4 linked regions of the Homo sapiens genome follow. The protein of the gene in region 3 purifies or fractionates together with the protein of the main gene of each other region. This does not show direct contact. Each region holds a gene or a part of one and is shown on either strand. Other genes may lie near its edges.

What was found.
Region 1: the proteins of COL8A2 (region 3) and P4HA2 purify together in Homo sapiens (affinity purification with mass spectrometry; 3 studies listed by BioGRID and IntAct, with this or other methods). This does not show direct contact.
Region 2: the proteins of COL8A2 (region 3) and P3H1 purify together in Homo sapiens (affinity purification with mass spectrometry; 2 studies listed by BioGRID and IntAct, with this or other methods). This does not show direct contact.
Region 4: the proteins of COL8A2 (region 3) and COLGALT2 purify together in Homo sapiens (affinity purification with mass spectrometry; 3 studies listed by BioGRID and IntAct, with this or other methods). This does not show direct contact.

What each region holds. Positions count from the first base shown.
Region 1 is NC_000005.10:132,210,853-132,217,883, forward strand, and holds part of P4HA2 (prolyl 4-hydroxylase subunit alpha-2 isoform 2 precursor), read right to left. Parts: exon of another isoform or gene 6,997-7,031; coding exon 6,900-6,996; intron 6,497-6,899; coding exon 6,345-6,496; intron 3,202-6,344; coding exon 3,064-3,201; intron 1-3,063. UniProt on the Homo sapiens protein: Catalyzes the post-translational formation of 4-hydroxyproline in -Xaa-Pro-Gly- sequences in collagens and other proteins.
Region 2 is NC_000001.11:42,745,846-42,750,031, forward strand, and holds the end of P3H1 (prolyl 3-hydroxylase 1 isoform 1 precursor), read right to left. Parts: intron 2,473-4,186; coding exon 2,355-2,472; intron 1,954-2,354; coding exon 1,878-1,953; intron 1,568-1,877; coding exon 1,427-1,567; coding exon of another isoform or gene 1,067-1,426; exon of another isoform or gene 1,008-1,066; coding exon 852-1,007; 3' UTR 529-851; downstream 1-528. UniProt on the Homo sapiens protein: Basement membrane-associated chondroitin sulfate proteoglycan (CSPG). Has prolyl 3-hydroxylase activity catalyzing the post-translational formation of 3-hydroxyproline in -Xaa-Pro-Gly- sequences in collagens, especially types IV and V.
Region 3 is NC_000001.11:36,115,206-36,122,236, forward strand, and holds part of COL8A2 (collagen alpha-2(VIII) chain isoform 1 precursor), read right to left. Parts: intron 548-7,031; 5' UTR 503-547; intron 1-502. UniProt on the Homo sapiens protein: Macromolecular component of the subendothelium. Major component of the Descemet's membrane (basement membrane) of corneal endothelial cells. Also a component of the endothelia of blood vessels.
Region 4 is NC_000001.11:184,034,715-184,042,300, forward strand, and holds the start of COLGALT2 (procollagen galactosyltransferase 2), read right to left. Parts: upstream 3,015-7,586; 5' UTR 2,644-3,014; coding exon 2,381-2,643; intron 1-2,380. UniProt on the Homo sapiens protein: Beta-galactosyltransferase that transfers beta-galactose to hydroxylysine residues of collagen.

The sequences.
Region 1 (7,031 bases), on a different chromosome or scaffold from region 3:
AAGATGTCTGGTGGGCAGTTTGCCATATGAGTCTAGAGGATGGAAAAATTAGCTGAATATAAAAAACATAAATTTAGGTGGCAACCAAGCCATGGGTGAGGAAAATAGCTTGCAGGAACTCTGAGGAAAGAATGGAGAAGATGACTAAGGCCAGAGCTCCAGGGAGCACCTACCCAGAAAGAACAGACAATGAATAACCCTGAGAATGAACTAAAGATAGGAGAAACAGAGGGAGCGGGAGTGGTGTGAGAGACACCAAGGGAGGCCAAGAGCCAAGGTTGCAGTGCCAGCTTTGGCTGTTAAGTGGCAGGGACCTTGCTGAGTATCAGTTCAGTGGGTCTTATGACCAAAGGTCATCTGCTGTAGAGGGAGTGCTGGAAAGTGACCATGAAGATAGTTTCAAGCCAATATGAAGAAGCAGCTATAGGGAGATGCAGGATTTAGGGTGAGCTCAAGATGGGAAAGACTATGTGTGTGGTTCCTCAGAGAATAATGAGAAAGCAGATACCATGGAGGGGAAGTGGGGGCTGTGACTCTCCCTGGAAAGCAAGGAAGACTCCCCACAGCCCCATTAACAGCAACCTGGGCATGGCTGACACAAAAGAACTCAGAGAAGGCTCTTTCTGCCTGGAATGAAACCACTACACAGTAGGCTAAATGCTTCAGAGACCAGGGTCTGCTAACCCCGGTGGCTCAGGAACCAATAACGAGGAATAGGAAGTTGGGGACAGTAAACACAAGATGAAGTCCCTAGGTAGGCCAGGGACTGGGGGGCTCCTGGAGCCCCTTTTCCTTCTCCACAGGTCTCCTCTGGCTCTGCAGGCCCAGGAACCTACATTGCTGGGGCAGAGTAACATAGCTGACTGAGCTGGGGCTCTGGAGCTGAACTAAACTAGGTTTGTGTTGGCCTCACTAGGGCGCCAACCAGCTGTGTGACTATAGACAAGTTACCATATCTAAGTCTCAGTCCCCTTATCTCTAAATAAAGATAATATCATCAATTTTAAAGAGCTTGTGGCAAGAATTCAATAAGATGACATATGAAGATGTCTCCTATGCTCCCCAGGATGCTAATGACCAGTAGCTATTATCAACATGTCTCCCAGATGCCAAGAATGCTAAGAATGGCTCCCTGGCACTCAGCATCCTCCCCAGAGCCAACTCGAATGTCTACTCCCTGGAGAGCATTTGGGAGAGTGACAGCTGAGCTGAGTGCTGATAGGCAATCAGACATGGAGTAGCCTAGCTGACATGGGTAAAGGTATTCCTATAGAGGGGTTGAGACAAAAGAGCTGAGTGATAGGGAAAGCTGAGTACAATGGGCAAGGAAGCCAGGAAAATGGAGTCATGCAGGACCCCAAAGACCACACACAGGAGGAGTTTGGGTTTAGCTTTGGAAATTAAGCACAGTAATCAGGAACTCATGTGAACAAATGTGTGCTTAAGACCACATGGAGGATGGTCTTAAGCAGTAAGCTGGAGGTAGGAGACAAGTCAGAATGGTATTTTGATAATCAAATTGAGAAAAAAGTAGCTGTGAGGCTGGAGTCAGGGGATAAGCACGGAAGACATGAGAGAAGGAGGTAGAATCCATAGGCCTTAGGCTTCTGGCTTAGGCAGCCAGAGGATGGAGGTCCTTTTTGCTGAGATAGAAGGATGAGGGGGAAGGTAAAGTGTTTACAAGGAGATGAGGATTTCAGTTCAGGACACATGAAGTTCGAGAAGTCCATGGGACATTCAAGTACAGATGTCCCAAAGGCATCCGTCTACACTGGTTAGAAGCTCGGGAGACAAGCCTTGGCAAGAAACACAGATCTGGATGTCATCCACCTCAGGTGATGGAAATGGCTGTGCTCACCTGGGGAAGGTGCTCAGGGAGAAGATGAGGTAAGGATGGAGTCCTAGGGAGTAATTCCTTTCTGCCCCATAACCCTATTCAGGACACTCATGGGTTTGCTGAGTGAACGTGAGAGGTCAACGCCAGGGTATGGTTCCCTCCTCCAAGCAACCAATCTCAAGGCTACAGAGTGAACAGATCTTGCAGGTGCCCTGAACTGCCCTCTCTCTAATGGAGTCTAAAGGGGGCAGCTGAGGTTCTGGAGCTGGAATAAGCTGGGTCTGCATGAGCCTCACACAGTGAATCGCTGGGGTTACTTGTCTCCAGCAGCCCTCAAAACATCTTCTTATAAACACTAACACTGGGAAGTCAGTGGGAGAGGGGCCACTTGAGAGAAAATGACCAGAGAGGCTAAAAGAGAAGCAGATATCAGTATGCCAGAATTCAAAGGAGGAGAGAACATCACAAAGAATGAGGCAATCTATCTGTCAAATGCTGCTGGGAAGTTAAAGAACATTATGTGTGAACCTTGTTCGCTGGGTTTACCAGCCAAGCGGCCACTGATGACCTTGTAAGAACAGCATCAGTGACAGTGGGGAAAAAGGCCAGATACTGTGAGTTCAGGAGTATATGGGAACCAGGAAAATGGACAGAGTGTAGATTACTCTATCCAGTAGCCTAACCAGGAGGGGAGAAGAGATGAATCAGCAGCAAAGACTCGAAAGACTCTCAGATACCGAGGGAGGCAAGTGTTAAGATGAGCAAGAATAGAGCCTATATGGGAGCTCAAGGGTAGAACCCAGAGAGGTGGAGACAGAATGTATAGGAGCAGAGACTGTAACTAAGAGGACTCAAGACAGGGGGATAGTAAGCCCAGATCAGCCTTAGATGAAAAGACATTGGAGGGTGGGAGACAAGAAGCAGGTCTGAATGCAGATCTGTGTGGTGCTCTGGGGACAGACGTGGAGGGGGTTCCTGAGCAGCAACTTTGGCTTTCTCTGAGATGCAAGAGGAGAGGGCCTTGGCTAATACATGGAGGGAGGTGGCAGGGCAGGGGCTGAGGGAGAAACCTGTCATGGGAGAGGGAGTCCAGCACAAACTGGTGAGCCAAGAGGTGCACCAGAGGTGCACCCGAGGTTAAAGGCCACAAGTTGGTGGTGGCTCCAACCTGTCCCGCCACTAAAGAGACACATGCGGGACAGGCAACGCCTGGAGTGGTGAGTTACCTGGAAGTTCCCCTCTGGAAATTGTGCCTGGGTCCAGCCTGTATGTGTCCTGAAGTCTCATCAGGGCTTTGGCAGCTCCTATCTCGTCCTCATCAGTGGGGAAGAACTGCCGCTGCACAGAGAGGTTGGCGATAAAACCTTCCAAATGAGAGTCAGAACAAGAGATTACCCTTGATCCAGGGGCAGAATTCCACTTGGGACCAGAGAGGCAGCCACAAAGAGGGTCTCTGGCTAGTGAAATTTCCCCGCCCCCTCCCTCAAAGGCTGTTGCCCCCTTCCACCAGGAAGTTGTCCCTGATGACTCCAGTCTATGGGGACTTTTCCTTTCTTACTCCTCACCATACCTACTGCCTGTGTTGCTCTTTGGAACTAAGTAGAAGCAGCCCCCCATATTGGTTAATATTTAGGAGTCCAGAAGTCTTGGCTCCAAATCATTCAGTCAGAGCTGGTGGAGACAGAAGAAACAGAGGATAGAGAGGGTAACTGAGAAGAGCACGGGAGAGGACTCAGGAAGAACTGTCAACCACTCAGTGGAAAATAAATCCCATGGAAAACCTTGATCCAGGGTAATTGGGCTAGTCAGGTAAACACAGACTTCCAGCACACATTTCAAGTTGAGGAGTCCAAGGGACAATGACAGTTAACTAATGAAGCCGAGCTGGCCACTCATTACTGACCACTGGCACTTATCATCCAGAAAGGTGATGATGAAAGTCCTGGAAGTCATCCCCCTCCCCCTAGGTTGACAGCTGAAGGACCACCTAGACAGGCCAAGGACCAAGGTGGGGTTGCACCAACCCAGCAAGGTCCGTCCCCTAAGAGACCACGGTGGGCCTGTTCTCCTCTGTACTCCCACCACTCAGACCTTCAATGAGTTCAGGGCATGGGCTCTCCAGTTATGGTGCTCAAGACCACAGCCTGAAGCGTGGGAGAGCTTTTGACCACAGAAGTACTCCAAGGAGGCTTTTCTGGGACTCCAAGCCCTAGCTGTAAAGTAAGATGTGTACCTCCTACAATCCCAGGTGGGAGCCAAGCCTTCCCAGGCTGACTTAGGGCCTTCAATTCTGCCTCTAAGCTGAGAAGTGAGAGGGGAACAACAAGGCCATTCCTTCCCCAACCTCTTCCCAAGAGTAGCTGTATCCACTGCCACCTATGACTTCAGACCTAAACATCCACTTCAGCCATAACTGGGGACAGGGACCAAGAAGCTGTAACCCTGCCTTCCTTGTCTTCATAGCTACATGGTCAGGGACTCTAAAGAGTTTAGAATCTGGTGGGGTGGGAGTAGGGGAACATGCTGCCAGGAAAAGCCACACTGTCAGCATGCCCTGCTCGTTTCAGGGGCAAGAACTCAAAGTCAGAGATGAAAACAACCAATTATTCTCTGGGCCTGCCCTATCTCCTTCCAGGTAATCATAAGGTTTTCCAAAGGAACCAGATGATGGTGGGAGTGTAGGGTGTGGAGAACAAGATTGGAGAGAGGAGGTCATCTGGGTAGGCTTAGTCTCCTGCCGTGCAGGCAGAACAGCCTGTCCCGAGCTGCAGGCCCAGGCGGAGAGGCGGGAGTCTGGGAAAGGCAGCCGTGGTTTCTGGAGGCAGTGAGCTCACTGGGCACAGCTCCAGCCTGGCTGAGCTCACCAATCCCTCTCCAGAGGCCACCCTGCCCCCAGGCCCAACCCAGTCTGGCCACATGGGCTAAAATGTCTCAGCCAGAGAGACAGCTAGTCTGAAGTTAATCAGCACTCACAGCTCAGGGAAAAGAGGCAGTGAAGAGCTGGGTACAATGGCACTGTGCCTATAGTCCCAGCTACTCAGGAGGCTGAGGCAGGAGGATCACGTGAGGCCAGGAGTCCAAGGTTGCAGTGTGCTACAATCGCACCTGTGAATAGCCACTGCACTCCAGTCTAGGCTAATATAGTGAGACCCTGTCCCTTTAAAAAAAAAAAAAAAAAAAAAAAAAAAGGCAGCGGGCATGGTGGCTCACACCTGTAATCCCAGCACTTTGGGAGGTGGAGATGGGTGGATCACGAGGTCAAGAGATCAAGAACATCCTAGCCAACATGGTGAAACCCTGTCTCTACTAAAAATACCAAAAAAAAATTAGCTGGGCATGGTGGCATGTGCCTATAGTCCCAGCTAGTCAGGAGGCTGAGGCAGAAGAATTGCTTGAACCCGGAGGCAGAGGTTGCAGTGAGCCGAGATCCCGCCACTACACTCCAGCCTGGTGACAGAGTGAGACTCAGTCTCAAAAAAAAAAAAAAAAAAAAAAAAAGTCAGTGAGTCCAGGGGACTAAACCCAGGGCTAGGAGTTAGGAGAGCCCACCTCCAGGCCCACCGTACCATCTCTTCTTATTGACAGAAAAGTATTAGGGCATAAAAAGTATTATCACAATAAAAGCACCAAGTATAGTTTAAAGCTTTTAAAAAGTTCACACTCTCATCGGTAATATCACTTCTAGGAACTTACCCTAAAAAAGTAATCAGAAGTATACACCAAGAAATATGTAAAAAGGTGCTGATAATTCAGAAAAAATCCCATATCCAATGACTTGACCCATTTGACAGTATTATCAGTATGACAGATTATCACCATCTGACAGGTAATCACCATCCAGCCATTAAAATCATGTTGCAGAAGAACATTGAATGGCATATAAAGAAGCTGAGAAATTCACAGAATTTTTTCTTCTGTCACAAATCTACCAACAGATATGCTTTGTTTGTAAAACATATGAATAGGAATGAATTTAGATCAGACCTATGCTCCCCAACTTGCCCTGGCCCCACCATCCAGCCCACTTGACACTTGTAAATTCATTGTCCCTCCAAGCAACTGAGTTTGCATGCCCTGGTATGTATGTATAGTTCCATTTTTTAAATGTATATGCATAGGTAGAAAAACTACAATTTTAATAATGCTCACCACTGGGCAACTGGATTAAGAATTATAATTCTCTTGTTTTTGTGTTTTCCGACTTTTCTATAAACATGTATCACTAAAGTATAATTGGAAAAATGTCATTAGCAAAAAATAAGAAAAGACAGACACTAAAAAAAAGACGCTAAAAAAAGAACTGAACATCATTACATGTTAAAAACCAAGGCCAGCCAACTTCCAGGTCCCCACAGAGAAGGGAGAGAGCCATGAGACCAGCAGGGTCCTGTTTCCACAATGTACTTGCCCACCAACACCCAGACCCAAGACAGGCTCAGACACAACAACCCAGGCATGAGCACACAAACATATGGGCTCACTCAAGCACCTGCTCACCGTCCCTCACCTGCAGCTGAGTCCTGCAGGACAAGGTCCTCCAGCGCAGGCCAGTCTGTGTTTAGCCGCTTCACCAGTTTGTAGGCATTCACAGGGTGAGCCAGGTAGCCCTCAGCATCAGCAGCTGACTTGCTAGTCAAGGCTTCCATTTTGTTGGCCCAGCTGTGGAACCAGAGGAAAAGGAAGACTAATGCGTCCACCCACATAGGTCTTGACCTGTGACAATTTTCCTAGTGAGAATTCCCTGGTGCCAGGTTCTGGGGCCCTTTTCATCAAGAGGCAATGAAAAATGAATACAGTAACTCCCCACAGATACTTCTAGCCCCTTAATCTAGATAACAGCTGGGACCCCCAATGTAAGGGAAAAGGTCTTAAATAGAAAATAAACAGTGACTCCTTAGCCCATGTACTTAGCTCCTCTCAAGCACTGGCATGAAGTAACCAGGCCAGCCCCACATCACCCTCTCAAAGGTTTCCTCTTATAGGCACCCTGGATGGCTTCCTTGTTCCTTGAGGGGCAGAAGGGAAGGAAGGCCAACTAAGGATGGTTGGGGACTTAGGACACCTCTTAATCTTGGAAAGCTTGGCTTCCTCCACAAGGATGTACTCTTTCAGAGACTGCACCAGCTCTTTCTCTGCATAAATCAGGTCAGTCATGTGCCCTGCAAGGGAGAGAAGAAAGACACCAGTGAGAAAC
Region 2 (4,186 bases), 6.6 Mb from region 3:
ATCTCAAGCACAGTAAAAGCTCTGGACCTAGTACCAGGGATGTAGCCAGAGGAGCTGAATCTCCATTTCCAGTGTTTCCTAGAGTGTGTCTTCCTGCACAGGGAGGCCGAGATACAGGACACTGAGGCCAGACGGCAGAGCAGGAAGCATGTGGCTGACATAGGGGTGACGTGCCAGAGCACTGCTGACCGCCGCTCCCTGCCAGAAGAGGATTAACAATAATCCCAACCATTCACCCAGAGCTTTACCGTTTACAAAAGTGTTGTCACATCCGATATTGCATCTGGGCCATACAGCTGCCCCAGAAGGTGAGCAGAGGGAGGACTATGATCCCCATTATACAGATGACAACCCCGAGGTGCTGAAGGTTAAGTGTCTGGCCTGTGGCTGCACAGCAAGTGGTTGAGCCAGGTGCCAAGCCAGGACTTCTCGTCCCACACCTGCCACTGGGTCCTGCCTAGAGCAATTTTTATCAAGTGAGACCTCTGGGACAGAATGGGCAAATTTCCATTGTCTGAACAAACCAAGTAAAAAAAACCATGAATCATTTATTCTTTGGTTGTCTACACAGACACTTAAGTACTGTATCGCTGTCATGCAGCGGCCTGTGGAGGCCCCTGGGGGTGGCTGGGCCTGTGTCCTGAGCCCTCAGCCAGATCCAGGGGGTGCGGTGTCTGGTCATGTCCACTCCAAGAGCAGTAGCACCATGTAGAAGGCTGTGAGCAGGGTCCCCTCGGCTGAGTGGCAGATGTAGGCTCACTGCTCTGCAGCCCCGAGGGGCTGGCCAGCTCAGAGTGCAGAAGAGTTCCTCTCCATGGGTCTAGTCACCCATCCGTCTGACCTGGACGCTGTCATAGCTCATCCTTGGGCTTCGATTCACTGCCTGAGAGAGACTCTTGTGCAGGTTCGGGGGGGCCCTGCTGGGCATCCAGGGGCTGCTCCTGGGAGAGGTCCATCTCTTCTGGGCTGAAGAGCATCTTCACCAGGTCATCTGCCTGCACCCTGTCCTGCAAGGACAAACCCCTGCCCATTCAGAGAGGCCTCCGCTCCAGACACTCGCTATCTCTCAGCTGCTACTTCCCAGGGGACAAGGAAGGTTCCTTAATGGCCCCAGGCTCATCTCCTTCCCAGCAGGTCCTACTCTCTGGAAAAGGACAGCTGAAGTGGGGCCCAAGGAGGGAACCAAGAACTCAGCATCGCTCCCTGTCTTGACCTCTTTCCCCACCTGGATCCCGTTCACAGCAGGCCCAGGGAGGACAAGGCAATGTGACCATAATGACAGGGCGTTGGAGCTGGTGTCCCAAGTGCTCCTTTCGTGTCTCAGCCACTGGCAATGGGATTTGGGGAAGAGAAAGGCAAACCAAGGGCGCTCTGGGAACGGGTCACCACAGCACCAGCTGCTCTCACCCGCTCGAGCTGCTCTCACCCGCTCGCTGTGTCGAGGGTCCAGGGTGAACCACAGGGCGATGGCACAGCGCTGCCCCCTGGTGACAGCCTTCACTCCATGTGGGTTTTCAGTGCCTGAAGAGAATCCCACGGCTCTTCCACACTGAGGCTGCACCTCTGCCTAAGGGGGACAGAAAGGGAGGGGGGTTGCACAGGACAAAGACTGTAATCCACTCTCAGAAGAGACATGGGCTCATTAGGGCTCACGACCGAGGGCAGCTCTTCAGTATGGCTTCCCTAAGACCAGAACTAAAGAGAAAGGGTGACTGGTTAGAGGAGTGATGGACACGTCTCAAAGCCCCTCTGGATGGGGGAAGGGTACCGCCCACTGGGAAGCCCAGTTGGTTATTTTTGTCCACTGCACTTTGGGAACATCAGCTGTAGAAAACAGACTTTTTATCTCCCAGGGACAAGGACAAGGGAGCACTCACCGTCACGGTCTTGGCATCCAGTTCAGTGAAATAAAAGTTTCCGCCATCGAAGTCCCCATTTAGGTAAAGGATGGCGCTGGGAAAGGCAGAGACATCTCATCATGGCCCTTCCCTGCCTCCCTTTCCCCTGAGCCTTCACCTCCAGGTGCTCTCAACCAGCAGCAGGAGGGTGGCTTTGTGTGGGAGGGAAACCTTTAAGAACCTATACTGATGCCGTACAAACTCCACCTTTCCACTCTCCACCCTCGCCTTAGAGTCCCCTGTGCCCACTCACACTACCGTTCTTGTCACACCACGATATGATTCCCTCTTTGCCTATCTTCTTATCCAGCGGGTTTGGGGATAAAGGATTGGACTCTGGGAACAGCTAGCCCCAACCAGTGTGTGTGTGCTAGGGTGGGGTAGTAGAGTGCAGGGCACTGTGGGGCCTCTGAGGAGGGCACAGACCTCCTCACCCTGCACCTGCCCCGCACTCACCTGTAGTCGCGGAAGGTGTAGGCTGGGGGCTCTTTGACACACACGAGGGTCTCGGCATTCAGGATGCAGTTGTCCACGTGGACTGGATGACTATCATCCTTCCTCTCTGCCTGGACCTCTGGGGCCAATGTCACACATGTTAGCAAGGGAGCACCTCGGGAGACGGCATAGCTCTCTTCTTGGCAGGGGAGGTGCTTCCCAAAATGTGTTTGAGTCTACGGAATGCCCAATGAACTAGGGGGGTGTCTTTGGCTAAGCCACAAGCCTAGGGGTCAGGACAAGTCTGCAGGCTTCCTAGGACAGTTCTTGGCAGAAGTGAGCAGGGTGTGGCAAGCAGGAATGAAGGGCTCCAACCAAGGGCAGATCCTGGGCAGAATGGCACAACCCTGGTTTGTAGCTGGACTTTACAAAATACAAAGGCCCAGGGAAGTGAGAATGAGGGATCAGGAGGTGGGACGGACGCAGGGCAGAGTGGGTCAGTCCTCCATCAGGACTGCAGGAGATGGGGCTGAGTGGCAGGAAGTGGGGCAGAGAAGAGCTGGCTAGCAAAGGGAAAGCATGAACTTCAGTGGGGCTCTGGGGTGGGGTGGGTGGAGAAACCATGCAGGGAGAAGGTCACGAAAGGGAACAGACCGGGCTCACTGTCAAATGCCAGGCAGACCACGTCTTTCCCCAACGCAAACCTTTGGCATGCTCTATGTAGGCACCGTCACGTCGTGGTGGGTGCCTCCTTCTCCATTCCCACTTGTCCAGCCAGTCACCAGGTCCTGTCCATCCACCTCCTGCACCTTCCCGGGGCCTCACTTCTCCCTCCTCCCACTGCCACTTCCTGAGTTTAGGGCTTTGCCCTTGTCCACAGAGGTCATTGCTGACCAGCTTCCCTTTTTGGTTTGAAATCTCTCCACACACACAGCAGCAAAATGAATCCTTTAAAAGTCAAGGCCTCACCACGTCCTTCACTGCTTGATGAGGCCTCCCTGGCCTCCTGGCACCTGTGCTTGTGCTCTCCCACCGGGGGCTTGTGACACACCCAGTTGTGTGTCTGACTGGTCCCTTTGGGTGTGCCCAGATTGTGACAGAATTCCAAACATTCTGAGGTAGAGGAAAGCCCTCTGATCTGTGCCACGTACCAATGGCCATCACTGCCAGGGGCCTGCTGGAGGCTCCAGTATGACAGAGCCGGCTCTGGGCCACATAGGATCCTTGCAGCACTAGCTGAACCTCTCCCCTTCTTGGACATGCAAAAGGGAATGTGGGTGGGCGAGGGAATGAGGAATAACCTCCAGGCCACTCTCACTTGTAAATCACGAAGCTCTCTCACAAATTTGGTATTTAACAATTAGTAAAAGAGAATCTGCCACATAGCTATGGTTGAGCTAAAGGATAAAAATTCCCTTGAATGTAGCTCTCCAGGATTTGGCACCTTTCTTAGTTCCCCTGACTACCAGGCTGCACAATGCCTCCACTCCTGTGCAAACACCATCCCACCACCCGGAGTACTCCGTAATCGTATTCATCCTGCAAAACTGCCATTGCTTCCTCTGGGAAGCCTTCTTTTTGTTGTTGTTGTTGTTGTTATTATTTTTGCTTTTAACAAGCCCTTCTGTTGAGGGCTGTCTTTCAACAGATGGCAGCGAGGGAGCTGCTCAGCTATGTATGAAACCCTAACCCGGAGGCAGGTCCTCTATGAATGGTTTAGCACCAGCTTCCCCATTAAAGTGCGTTGTGTGACAAGTGACGGGTGGCCCCCTTTCTGGCTGCACCCCATTTCCCTCTGGGAAGCCTTCTTGATCCCCAGGTAGGTTGACTATAACTTCCTCCATGCTACTGTG
Region 3 (7,031 bases):
CCACCCCCAGGCCTCAGGCAGGGGCAGGCGGGGCCTCCTCAGCCTCCAATCCCTCACCTTCTGGTTCGCATTTGCAGCCTTTTCCGGAGCGCCACCCGCCACCCGCTGCCTCCCCACGCCTGCCAAGATTCCTGGGCCTCTGCGGCTACCCTGCGTGGTGGCGGCAGCAGCGGCAGCAGGAGGGGCTGGGCTGGGCAGGGAGGGGGCCTGGCGGGAGCACAGCCAGGCCACTGCACCCAGGCTGGGCCAAGCAAACACGGCCCCGCCAAGGAGCCAGGCGAAATAGTTCACAAATGAGAAAAAGCTGCTTCCGAGTTGGGCCAGGGTTTTAAAGCCCGGGCTGCAGGGAGCTGAGGTCACATACAAAAGGGGTGGCTCACAGGACTCTCTGGGCCTGGGAGGGGCTTCCGGTGCAGCAGGAGGGAGTGAGGTTAGACAGCAATGAACACAGGCCTCATCTGGCCTGAGATATCAGAAAACCCCATCCCCAAACCTAGCTTACCTTTCAGGTCGGAGGGGCCTGGGAAGGTTCCAGCAGAGGCAGGGCCTGAGGATGAACAAGAGAAACAGTGAGGCTATGGGGCAGTGGCTCAAGCTTGTAATCCCAGCACTTTGGGAGGCTAAGGTGGGAAGACTGCTTGAGCCCAGGAGTTTGAGACCAGCCTGGGCAACATAGGGAGACATTGTCTGTACTAAAAATTTTAAAAAATTAGCTGGGCATGATGGTGCACGCCTATAGTCCCAGCTACTTAGGAGGCTGAGGTGGGTGGTATTGCTTGAGCCCAGGAGTTCAAGACTGCAGTAAGCTATGATTGCACCACTGCACTCCTGAGACAGGGCAAGACTCTGTCTCAAAAAAAAAAAAAAGGAGGAACAGTGAGACGATGACATCAGGAGCCTGGGAAGCCTCCTGCCCTAACCCACAGCCACACCAGTGCCTGCCCCGGGCTTCTTACCAGAACCCCCTGCTGGAAACCCGGCCCCAGTCTCAGTCTCTCTTCTCAGTTCCCTCCTCCCCTGAGGGAAGCAGGGTATGTGCCCCATACTCCACAACTCCATTCATTCAGTGCACACTTAGCAATACCCACGGGGTGCCTGGCCCTGGATTCAAGGAGTTCCTACTGTCCTAGGGCCCAGGCTGAGGATGCCCCTTCTGTGTCCCGGGTTCCCATGCTGGAGAAGTCCCTCCCATATGTCAGCTCTGGTTTGGGGTGGCCCCTACTTTGGGTTAGGATCCCTGCTGGGGAAGCTTCTACTATGTGGAGGACCCAAGCCTGGGTCATGGACCACAGAAATGGTTCAACCCCATACCCTGCCCTGCCTTGCCCTGAAGGGCTGGGGGCATCAGACAAGCGGTCATCACACAATTGGCAAAGATCTCTGGGCTGTGGGAGCATGAAGCAGGGAATACTGCCGACTTAAGCTTCCCCTGAAGGCTTCATGGAGAAAGGGACACTGCAGCTGGGTCCTGAAGGATGAGTCGGAGTCTGAAAGGCAGATGAGGTGATAGAAGGAATTTCAGGTAGTAATATACAGGGAAGGTCCAGAAGTGCTGTGGGATGGGGAGGCTGGGGCAACATGGTGAGGAAATCTGAATGCCATGCTTGCATTTCTCTGGAGAGCAATGGGGAGCCATGGAGGGTTATTTAGTGGGGGAAGTGATGTGGTCAGAGCCCTGGATGGCTAGGTCCCCATTTCTGCCTCAATCAGGTGTGGTGCCAGGATCTAACAAAAGTCGTAGTCCAGGTCACATAGCTGTACGCAGAGGATCCAGAGCTAAAGTCCAGACCCAGACATGACTCCGGGGTAGATGGGGAGGGGATGCCCAGCCAGCCCACCTGGCAGGGAGGCCTGCAGGCCGCGTCACTCTCTCCCCCAGCTGCTTGCTTGCCTCTGCCTGCTCCCATGGAAACTCTGACATCCAGTCCTGTCTGTAGCTGCACAAGCAGCCAGATGCTGGAGCCAGCAGCAACTAGGCCTTCTCTCCAACTCAGCTGAGCCCTGCCTCCATCCTGCCACTCTGAACACTATGACCCCAGAGCTGGGTCATGGGGCCACAGCCTGGATGATGGAGCCCAGGTAGGAGGACCCTCCAGCTCAGCTTAGCCCCAGCTTCTCCGGCCCCAGCCCCGTCCCTGCACCATGAGACTCTGGGAGAAGAAATGACTTAAGCTGGCTCTGGGCTTTGAAGGATGAACATGGATTTAACTGGTTGGTAGTGGAGAGAGGTGATCAGTCCTGGGCCAAGGCAACAGCATGTGTGAGAGTGTAAAAGCCCTGAATATATTCAGGGGATGGAGAGAATCCAAATAAAATAGACAAACACATGAACTAACTAATCATAGCTAATATTCATTGTGTACCCACTGTGTGCCAGGTACCGTTCTGGGTGTTCTCATGAATTATCTCATTTAATCCTCACAACAACCCAGTGACAAAAGTATTTCATCTTCCCTTTTTACAGATGAGAAAACTAAGGGACAGAGAGGATAAGTAACTGGCCCAACATCACACAGCTCATGAAAAGTAGAGCCTGGAGCTGGGCACAGTGGCTCACACCTGTAATCCCAGCACTTTGGGAGGCCAAGGCAGGAGAATCACTTGAGTTCAGGAGTTTGAGTCCAGCCTGGGCAACATAGTGATACCCCCATCTCTTAAAAAAAAAAAAAAAAAGTAGAACCTGAATTTGAACCCTGGCTGCAGGCTCCAAAGCCTAGGCTTTTCACCATACAGATGATTTGAGGAGAGGAGACCTGGCTGGGGCCAGACTGAGAAATGCCTTGAATATCAGGATCAGAGATGCGGATCCTACCTAAAGCTGCTTCCCCATTCCCTTCCCCCATGTTAACCGTTAAGAACAACGGTGTCTGCATCCCAAGTTCATTGTATGCACTGGACATAGCACTAGGCACACTCCTGGCACTATTGGCTCCTGTAACCCTGGAAGGTTGGAACTGCTGTCCCATTTTACTGAGGAGGAGCACTGGGTCCCAGAGAGGTCACATCCATTCTCTAAGGAAACCAGGCTAGGAAGTGAAGGAGGTGGGATCTGAACCCAGCTCTGCCTGGCCCCCAGGTGGCTAAAGCCCTGTATACCTGGGCTCCCTGAAGACCTCAGCCACGGGCCCTGCCCCCTACTCCTGCTCTACCCCACCTGTGCTGCCTCAACCTAGATGGCACCAGGGACAGGCAAGGCTGGGAGCAGAGTGGGCAGCTACTATCAGGTGCCTCAGGAGTCCACTCCAGTGGGCCAAGGCCCCCTCTGTCTTACAAATAGGAAGCTGGGGTGAGTGGGTAAGCCAGGGCGGTGCCTGAGCCGACTTCAATGGGACTCTGTTCTTAACCTTCACCCCCAGCTGCCTTCCCTAATCCCCTCCTGGAGCCCCTCCCCTGGCGACGTCTCCCCTTTGCACAGAGCCTGCCGCTGTTGGCTAAATCCCAGACCAGATGTGGGTGGGACAGTCTGCACCCCCCGCCCCCCACCCCCAACCAGCTTCTGAGAGCTGCAGGGTTCCAGGGAGGCTGGCCAGGGCCTCAGGCCCGCTTCCCCATTCCAACTTTCCAGACTGAGGTGCTGATGGCCATGAGGTGAACAATTGGCTCCTGCCAGAGATGGGGCTCATGGGAAAATTTCCCATTTCTGAGCTCCTACTACGGGCAGGCTCTGGACTAAGAGTCTTGCTTTAAAAATCATGTCGGATTAAGAGGACCTCTCTGGAGCCCAGCTGCATGCATCCTTATCTCAGCCCTAGCTCTTACTAGCATGAGACCTCCACCTGGGCCTCAGCTTCTTCATCAATGAAATGGGAACTCCAGGCATTATTTACTCCCGTAACCCTGGAAGGCTGGAACTGCTGTCCCATTTTACTGAGGAAGAGTGCTAGGTCCCAGAGAGGTCACATCCATTCTCCAAGGTAACCAGGCTAGGAAGTGAAAGGGGTGGAATCTGAATCCAGCTCTGCCCAGCCCATATAAAGCTGCCCAGCTCAGCTTCACAGAGCATTTGTGAGGATTAAACAAGTTAATTTTGTGTAACGGACTCAGAGCAGTGCTTGGCATATAGGAATCCTAAATAAATATGCCCTATTATAAATATAATCACTGGCCTGGCACAGTGGTGAACCCAAGTTCACCATTTGCCCAAGTTCCCCCAGCCAGGGAAGGATGGTCCCAGAGCTTGGCCCCAAGCTAAGCAAGTCCAAAGATGAGGACAACCTTCTGGCTCCCCCAAGCTGAGGCATGGTGTGTACTGGGGTGAAGGTCAGTCCCCCGCACCCCCTCAGTCCCTCCTGCCTGACCCCCAGGGGTTCCAACCCCAATCCAGCCCCTGCTGCCGCTGCAGGAGGGGGCTCTGCATTCCTGGCTAAGCAGCTGGATTTGCTGTGCTCCAGGAACTATGAAAAGAATGCTTGCCATGAGCAGAGCCGTGGTCGCCTGTCAGGGAGCGTGGCCTGGAGTGCCCACGCAGAGCTTGGTGGCAGCCAGCACAGTGGGAAGGAAGGAGGCTAGCCAGAAAGGAGAACTTCCGGGTGGTGGGGGCTGTGGACACTGGACGGGTGTGGAGACCAAAGAGTTGGCCACCTGGGATCTTTCAGGAGATAACTGACCCCTCTACCCCGCAATCTAGGTTTCTCCTCACCACAGGTTGTAAGGAGAGGCAGGCTGGCACTGCTGGCCCAGCTCATGGATGGGGTTACACAGACTCAGAGGAAAACTCTCCTGAGGTCACACAGCAGCCAGTGGCAGAATTGAGACCAGAGGCCAGGACCCCCAGCTCAGGCCCCGCCTCTTCACAGAGGCTTCCCTCCCTTGCAGGACCCACCAGGGACCACCAAGGGTTCCTAGATAATAGAAAATACCATCCCAGCCCTCACGGTTCTGGGCTCTCTCTGGGTCTGACCTTCTCATGCCTGCTATTCCTCTTTCCCCCTCCACAAAAAACCCCTTGTGCTATGAAGATGCCCCACACACTGTAGACGTACGACAATTGAGATTCCATTCCTTTTGGGAGGCTCAGGCGGGCGGATCACTTGAGGTCAGGAGTTCAAGAACAGCCTGACCAACATGGCGAAACCCCGTCTCTACTAAAAATACAAAAATTAGCAGAAGTGATGGTACACATCTGTAATCCCAGCTACTAGGGAGGCTGAAGCAGGAGAATTGCTCAAACCCAGGAGGTGGAGGTTGCAGTGAGCCAAGATTGCACCACTGCACTCCAGCCTGGGTGACAGAGACTCCATCTCAAAAAAATAAATAAAAAGAGGACGGGCACAATGGCTCACGCCTGTAACCCCAGCACTTTGGGAGGCCGAGGCGGGCAGATCACAAGGTCAGGAGTTCGAGAACAGCCTGACCAACGTGGTGAAACCCCATCTCTACTAAAAATATAAAAATTAGCCAGGCTTGGCAGCGTGTGCCTGTAATCCCAGCTACTCAGGAGGCTGAGGCAAGAGAATCACTTGAACCCGGGAGGCAGAGGATGCAGTGAGCCGAGATCATGCCATTGCACCCCAGCCTGGGCGACAGAGCGAGACTCCGTCTCAAAAAAAAAAAAAAAAATAGAGAGAGAGAGAGGAAGGAAGGAAGGAAGGAAGGAAGAAAGGCCAGGCATGGTGGCTAACACCTATAATCCCAGCACTTTGGAAGGCCAAGGTGGGTGGCTCACTTGAAGTCAGGAGTTCAAGACCAGCCTGGCCAACATGGTGAAACCTTGTCTCTACTAAAAATACAAAAATTAGCCGGGCCTGGTGGTGCACACCTGTAATCCCAGCTACTCAGGAGGGTGAGGCAGGAGAATCGCTTGAATCCAGGAGGTGGAGGTTGCAGTGAGCCAAGATCGCGCCACTGCACTCCAGCCTGGGCGACAGAGTGAGACTCCGTCTTAATAAAAAAAAAAAAGACCAGGCATGGCACGGTGGCTCACTCCTATAATCCTAGCACTTTGGGAGGCCAAGGCGGGTAGATCATGAGATCAGGAGTTTGAGACCAGCCTGGCCGATACAGTGAAACTCCATCTCTACTAAAAATACAAAAATTAGCTGGGCATGGTGGTGCTCACCTGTAGTCCCAGCTACTCAGGAGTCTGAAGCAGAAGAATGGCTTGAACCTGGGAGGCGGAGGTTGCAGTGAGCCGAGACCATGCCACTACACTCCAGCCTGGGCGACAGAGCCAGACTCTGTCTCAAAAAAAAAAAAAAAAAAAAAAAAAGTTGCTGTTCTAATTCCTTCTTATTGGCCAGGCACAGTGGCTCACCCCTGTAATCACAGCACTTTGGGAGGCCAAGGCGGGCGGATCACCTGAGGTCAGGTGTGCAAGAGCAGCCTGGCCCCATCTCTACTAAAAATACAAAAAATTAGCCGGGCATGGTGGTGGACGCCTATAATCCCAGGTACTTGGGAGGCTGAGGTAGGAGAATCTTTCAACCTGGGAGGTGGAGGTTGCAGTGAGCCAAGATCGTGCCACTGCACTCCAGCCTGGGTGACAAGAGCCAGACTCTGTCTCAAAAAAAATTAAAAAAAAAAGAAAGAAAGAAATCACAAAACCCAGTAAGGTTCCCTCTGCTCCATGTCCTTTGAGGGAGGGCAGCCTTTGTGAGGAAGGGCACCTGGGCCTGGGATCCTGGCCTCTGTTTCGATTCTGCCTCTGGCTGCCGTGTGACCTCAGGTGAGTTCCCCTCTGAGTCTCCATAACCCCATCCATGAGCTGGGCCAGCAGTGCCACCTGGCTCTCCCCATGAGGCACTAGCCCTCCGCCACCCCCACATGTGACCTCTTCTTCCCCTTCAAAAGCCAGGAATCCCAGCCCATCCAGGCTGCATGGGGATAGTCAGCCTCCAATTCAGAACTTTCCAAGAATCTGAATAGAAGCACGGCCAGGTCCTCCCCAGTCCACTCCCAGGGTCCAACCAGAGAGGCGGAATGGACACTGATCGGAAGATCTAGGTGCTGTGCCCCCATTGCATGTGTGACCTGGAACTACTCCTCACCTCTCTGCAGGCAAAACAACTCTGGAGACCAGTACAGCATTCCCA
Region 4 (7,586 bases), about 150 Mb from region 3:
GAATGTGAAGTTCTTAGAAGAACCACGAGCTCTTATTATTATGTGTGGAATTTATAAATAAATGTAATTTTGAGTAAGTCAATCACTTTAAACACATTTCTTCTTCTGGGAAATAGAGATAATTTTATTTCTTCACAGAATGGCAGTAAGAATCAAATGAGTTAACAGTGCATGGAAGTTATTTCCAAAGGTTCTTTACAGCTCCTTTGTGAGCTGAAAAGAACTATTTAGAAACTGGGATTTGTATTATTGTTACCTAAAGAATTACACAATGTTTTAAAGACAGAACCAAAATTTTTCAAAGAAGAGTCTTCAATGACTGACGCAAGCATGGCCTTGCACTTCTTGCTTAACCTGCCAATGCTGGACATAAAAGACAACAGATTTCAAAGGTCTATGCAGAACTGGAATTCTCTCATCTAAGTAAGACACCAGTGTCCATACCATCTGGAACTTACAGGGAACTTAGGATGTACATTGATGCTGGTTGATCCTAATTATATTGCAAAATCTATGGAATTCAAGAGCCATAAAGAATTTTTGAAATCATTTATTCCAACTCCCTCGTTTTATTGATGAGGCAACTGATGCCTATGGATCCCAAGCAACCAGCCCCAAATCACATATCAAACTAGTAATAAACAACTCAAGTCTCCTAATTTGTAGATTATAGGCTTATGTAAATTTTGTTTATATCATGTTTCCTGCCTTTTTAGGGTGGCCTTGGGTTCAAATTCCAGTTTCACCATTTATTAATTCTGTCACTTTAAGTGACTTACTGAACTGATGCAAGTCTGTCTCTTTCTTTGCAAAATAAACATCATAGCATCCTCTTAAAAGTTTACTGTATGATAAAAAGAGGTAATGTCTCTAAATCAGGTAGCAAAGCATGTGCCTGACACCTGCTTCACCACTCACCAACTTCTTATGGTAAATACTGTAACGTTTTAAAAAACTAAATCATGCATAAAGATCAAAACCATATTTTAAAATATCTCTTAAAAAAAACACAACAACTAAGGTAACTGATATGTGTGAATTTCTTTTGGTACCGAAGTGGTTAAAAAAAAATCCTTCCTTCTGGTTTAAAGCCTGGCTGTCCCAGTGCTCTCTTTCCACATAATATGCCCTTCTCCGCCAGGCGGTCACGTATGGCAGGGTATATAGTAAAGCAGTGTACAGCACAGAGCTGTACTATATCACATGTTTGCTTTCGCACCTTTGCACCTCTCCCACCAGGTACTCTGAGGCTGCCAATTCTAGCTGCTGCTTTTACTCCTCTTCCTCTCTTTGCCCAACCGCTGCTTTAAGGATGTGTCTCGCCTGAGAACAGCTCCCTTTATCAACACAAGACAGAAATTGCTCCAGAGTGACCTGGGCTCTGTCTTCCTCAGGGGGCCAGAGTCTTCTTGTCCGAGTACCTACCTGACAGCACATCTCCCCTGGCCAGCATCCACCTCCTTGTCCTCCACAACCCACTCAGCGGCTAACCTGGCCACCAACTAACTTCTCGCCCTCGGATCCTCGCGTTTATAAAAGGTGCGAGACGACCAAGTTCTACAAGGTGGGGCGGGCAGGCACCCGCACTTATCCCCTGGCCCTCCCCGCAGCAGACACAGGGACCAGGTCCAAGCTTCTTTCCTCCGGGGACAAAACTTGGCTGTTTATCTTTCCCAGGGCATCTTCGTCTCTCCCCGGGACGTGGAACCCCGATGCACCGGCAGGGACAGCCCGGAGCGCTCGCAGGAGACCAGGCCCACGGTGGTGCCATGGTTGGGCACACTCCGCGGGCTCCGCCCAATCTCCACCCCTAGGTCCAGGTCCCCCTAGGAGAGCTAGGAGCACATTTCCAGCCTGGAGCAGGAGCCCGGCACCGGAAAGTCAGAGCAGCGCACTGCGGCGCCCCAGCCACTGCGGAGCCCCTGGCCAACCGCAGTTACGTTCCATCTGTCGTATCTACATGGGAATACGGCGACAGGCACCCTATCCCCTCACGTCAGGGCTAGCAGTATGAGGTGGGGAAAGAGGAAACCTCGAGAGTTAAAAGCGAGGGAACTGAAAGTCCCCTTGAGGGGTGTCCCCCATGCCCCTTGTGGGACAAAGCCCCAATTCGCAGGCTACCCTCCAGAGCTCCAGCGGTCCGGTTCTCCCCATCAGCACCCTCTGCGCACACTGACCCGCGCGTCCCTCCGCAGCCTGACCGCCCGATCCGCCAGCCACCGGCGCGGGCAGCGAGGGGGTGTGTGCGCCAGATTTTCCGCGTGCCCCCCCGCCCCTCCAGCGGCTCCCTCGCCCTGCAGCTGCTGCTCCGGGCGCTGTCCGCGCTGGGCAGGCCGCCCCCGCGTCCCGCCGCGGCGGCCCGGGGCCCGTGCGCGCTCACCAGATGGCCATCCTGCTCTTGGGGTAGTCCAGCCGCTCCAGGCAGCCGAGGAAGTGCGGCAGCGTGTGCGCCGCGTTGCGGGCGAGGACCGCCACGAGCACCGTGGGGCTCTGCAGGGGCGACTCCGGGAAAACCACCGGCTCCTCTCCGTCGTCCTCCGAGTCCCGCTCGGCGACGAAGCGCGCTCGGCAGCCTTCGCGGAGCAGGGCTGAGGAGAGGAGCAGTAGCGACCAGGCGAGGGTGGCAGCAGGGCGCGCAGCCATGTTCCGGGCCGAGGCGGGCGGCGGGGAAGTCCTGGCGCGAGCGCCCGGCTGGGCTGCCTGAGGGCGGCGGCGGCTGCCGGGGAGCAAGGGGCTGCGAGGGGCGGCCGGGGGATGCGGCTTGCCGCGGCCGGCCGGCTCACACACTGGCCTCGGCGGCTGCGGTTCCCAGGACCCTCCCGCCGCCGCTGCACCGCCCAGGCCCCAGTGCGGGTGCGCAGCGTACCTGCAGCCGCTGGCGCTCCCCTGCGCCTCGGGCTCGCAGACAGTAGTGGCCGAGGGGCTGTGTGCCCTGAGTCCTGAGGAAAGTTCCTCTAGTCCAGGTTCCGCTCGTACAGCTGAGGTCTGTGGCCTTCCCTAGAGCCGCGAGTTGTGGCCCTGTCTGCCAATGAGCCTGTGAGTGTGTGTGTGTGTGTGTGTGTGTGTGTGTGTGTGTGTACATAACGGTACAACCCCAAGAAAATTTATTCTGCTTTTGCAAACCGCAGACTGAAGCCCTTCACAGTGATGCAATGTATCCAGTTTTCATAATGCACCTATTGACTGAGTAGAGTTCTAAAATGAAAAGTCTCCCCAACTATTCACGATTATGACAAACACTTGTTTAACCACCGCAAAGGCAGCATGTCGCATTTTCTTATATACTCAACTTCTGAAATTCATTCTTGACTGAGTAGACACCTAATAACACAAAGTTTGAAGACTTGGAGAATTTTGGAGCCAGATCAGACCCCGCAAAATAAAAGAAAGCCCTTGGGAGACACTGTCCTGAAGCCTCACTCTACTGTGAACCCAGTAAGCCTCCTCACAGGAGGGCTGTGAAAGAATAAATTCACTTAGCTGGTTTTCTTTTTCCGTAATAAGCCAATATGATAGAGTAACAAAGAGGGAAAATTCGCGCATGTTGGAGAGCAGAGAAGAGATAAGGAAGAAAAGAAGGGGTGAAGGAAGAACACAATTAGCACATAAAATGAAACTGCTGGCATACACTGCTAAAGGAGATTTACTTTTTTTTTTTTTTTTTTTTTGAGACAGGGCCTCACTCTGTTGCCGGGGCTGGAGTGCAGAGGCACGATCACAATTCACTGCAGCCTCGACCTCCTGGGCTCAAGCAATCCTCCCACCTCAGCCTCCCGAGTAGCTGGGACCACAGGTGTCCATCACCACGCCTAGCTAATTTTTTTTTTTTTTTTTTTTTTTGTAGAGACGGGTTTTCACCATTTTGCCCAGGCTGGTCTGGAACTCCTGGGCTCAAGTGATCTGCCCAACTCGGCCTCCCAAAGTGTTACGATTACAGGCATCAGCCACCATGCTCGGCTGGATATTTAGTTTTGAAGATATATTGTGTAGCCTTTGATAGATAAGTATGGAGGGTGTTTTGGTGCCAGTGCACATTCATGATCTCCAATCCCAACTCACCCTCAGGTCTGTCCCATAGTCTTTTTATTAGTTGTTATCAATCCTTCTCAGCAACTATTAGAAGTCTTCCCTACTGTCTTTTGAAGTATATCACCTCCTTCATCCAGCTCCCCCAACACCACTGTCTCCAACTAGCATCCCTACCAAGACCTTTCTTACTTGCAGGTGCCTCCTCACGACAGGGTCTTTGATCACAGACTAGAAAGGGAGAGGTCTCCCTTTCTAGCCCATGATTTTTCTCTATCATTCCACTCTCTACTGAATCTTCAACTGATCTCTATCAACTCCTTTCTCTCAAGCTAAATACTTGGTCAGTCTTCTCTTATCCGTTAAAAAAAAAAGAAAGAAAAGCTTTAAAAAAAAGTCCTGTGTCTTCTTCTAGTCATCCCTTTGCTTGACCAAGCTCCTTGGAAGAGAGATCTATACTTGTATTCTCCACTTCTTCATCTCCCATCTTTCCCACCACAGTGCAGTAAGGCGTCAGCCCTCCCCACTGTTCTGCAAAACCAACAGATGGCCTCAGCATTGGCAGATTCAGTAAACTCTTCCGTTCTCACCTTCCTGGACTTCGATTACATAATCTCCCATCCTAGATCTCCTCTGATACTACTTGTCTCTGAGCCAAGCCCCTTCACTGTGTGCCTCCCTATAGTGTGCTAGTCTTCCCACTCCATATGGTCTCCTGTGGTTATATCCTCAAAATCTATGTCTTCTGCTCTAATCTCTTCTCTAATCTTCATATTTTTTTATCGAATGGCCTACAGACATTTCCTTCCCCTCCATCCATTTTCAGGAATTGTTCCCACTTTCAAGGGGCTCACAGTCTTGTAGGGAAGACTGAGAGTTAAACATCTGTTAGAAGTACTGTAACAGATGTACCAGCTACAGTGAAGGGATAGAGGAAGATGTGGTCATTTCCACAAGGGAGGTAGTGATGGGACTGTTAGAAAGGTCCAGACAATCTCCATGTTGTTCTGTCTTTCTTGTTTCCCTTTCTTGAACTATGTCCCACTCATCTTTCAATACTAAAATCCGCACTCCTTAGCCAAACTTGGTTTGATAGTTATCATTTGTTCACTTTACTGCAAACAGAGGGAGTTTAAAGCTAGGCAACCACATTTCTGTCTTATTTTCCTTCTGTTACTGATATGGTCTGCCTATGTCCTCACCCAAATCTCACATCGAATTATAGCTCCCATAATCCCCACGTGTCGTGGGACGTAATTGAATCATGGGGGCAGGTTTTTCCCATGCTAGTCTCGTGATAGTGAATAAGCCTCACAAGATCTGATGGTTTTATAAAGGGCAGTTCCCCTGCACATGCTCCCTTGCCTGCCGCCATGTAAGGTGTGTCTTTGCTCCTCCTTTGCCTTCTGCCATGATTGTGAGGCCTCCCCAGCTATGTGGAACTGTGAGTCCACTAAACTTCTTTTTCTTTATAAATTACCCAATCTCAGCTATGTCTTTATTCACAGCGTGAGGACAGACTAATACAGTTACCTAAAGTCAACAGCTTATCTGAGTCTATTTTTTCAAAGAAAGGTGAAGCATCTAAACCTGTATGGTCTCTAATGACATTATAATGAAATCGGCTCCATGGAGTTCTCTTAAAATAACTACAACCTGCTCTGCTCTGTAGATGAAATCAAGGGTTTCCCAGCCACATAACCTACAAAACACCTATTTAAAACTTTTAATTGAGTGCTCATTTAGTGACTGAGAATATTAAGGTAATAACAGGGTATGCAACAGTAGAAGATCATTGTAAATATGGTTGGGAGGCAGTGGAGGGGAAGCCTGGGAAAAATTAAGTCCCCATCTTACTAACAGATTTGTTTCATAAGTTCTTCAGAAATCAGTAATGTGAATTTGGATGTTTCCCCCCCGCATAGGATTGATGTTATAAGACAGTTAATTTGAAAAAAAAAACTAATTTAAAAATAAAAGCCAATTATATTTTAAAATATTCATTGCTTATAATGCTCTTTCCATGGAAAATCGGCTGAATGGAAAGTCAGGGTTGTACACACATATCTCTTTGTCTCCACTGCCAGTAGACTGTTCCAATTGATTCTACATAAAGTTAGAAGTAAGCACTTTCTCTCATATCCCCTCCCCATACTGTTCCAGCACAGGGGACTTCCATCTGGGACAACAAAACCTCTTGGACTGTCACCCTTAGTGCAATGTGGTGGGGACAGGGCCTATGAGGTGGCCAGAGGACTTCTTGCAGGAAAGCTTCTCAAGATGTCTGTGGCTCCAGCAGCCCAGAAGAGGAGGAAATAAATGCCTCTGGGGCAGCTGTGATAGGCTTGAAAGAGCAACTGACACTTGGAGCTGAATTTTCATTTCACTGGTGTCACTTATTCTCTTTGTGACCTTGGAAACTTGACCTCTTTGAACATCAATTCCTTCCTAGGTAAAAAAGTTTTAAATGCTTGCCTCATTTTTTCATTCAACAAACATTTATGAAATTGCTAAATGCCAATCATTTGAGTGTTGAATATTTGAATGCTTCTCCCTTGGAAAAACAGGGAGAAAGTGGCCAGCCCCTCGTAAGTCCTGCTGGGCCATAGTTGGCAGAAAGAGTCTCTTGGCTGAATTATCCAGGCTTCTTTCTTCTGTACTGAAATATCTTTCTTTCACTACCTGGTTTGTTTTACTCGCTTTTCTGATCCATCCTAAAATCCTACAATGTAAAATGTACTTGAATTGACAATTCTGCCAATTTCAACATGAAAATCCTTGAGAGAGGAGCATTAGATGATATCTTTTTAATTCAATCAGATTTTTAAATCTTATCACCTAAACTGAAATGGCCTATAAGAAGTTTTGATAAAGGGAACTGAATGGGATCCTAATTTGAAGCATGGGTCTCTTTGGTGACAAAGCAAGTTTTATGGATTTCTGATACGTAGGCCCGAGGACTCTGGGTCCTAGGAAGGGAATTAATATTAAGGGAGAAAAAGAGCAGTGACTGAGGTGGGAAAGGCTAAAATTAAACTACGTCAGTGTCAAAGTTTTGTCTATGCTCTGGCTGCATCCAAGAGCTATAGAATAGTCACTACGGAGGAATGTTTTCCAATTCAAAACAAGTTTATACAAATGTAAACTACACTTCTACGTCTCATTTAAGAATAGATGCATCCCTTAAATTATATTAACTCATTCCTTCAAACACTTGCTCAATGCCTACTCTGTGCCAAGATATAGTTGCTGGAAATGCATGAATAAATAAGATGTGTCATATAAATGCACAAATGCTATAAGTCATTTTATGTCTTATGATGGAAAAAGGAGCATAAGTAAGGAAGTGGGGAAGTGGAGATAGCTAGGAAATGTTTAATTAAAGAGATGTCTTTGAATTGAGCATTGAAAAATAAGTAGCATGCATGGACAGGAAGAATTAATATTTTTAAAATGGCCATACTACCCAAAGCAATTTACAGATTCAATGCTATTCCTAAACTACCATTGAGATTTTTCACAGAACTAGAAAAAAACTATTTTAAAATTCATATGGAACA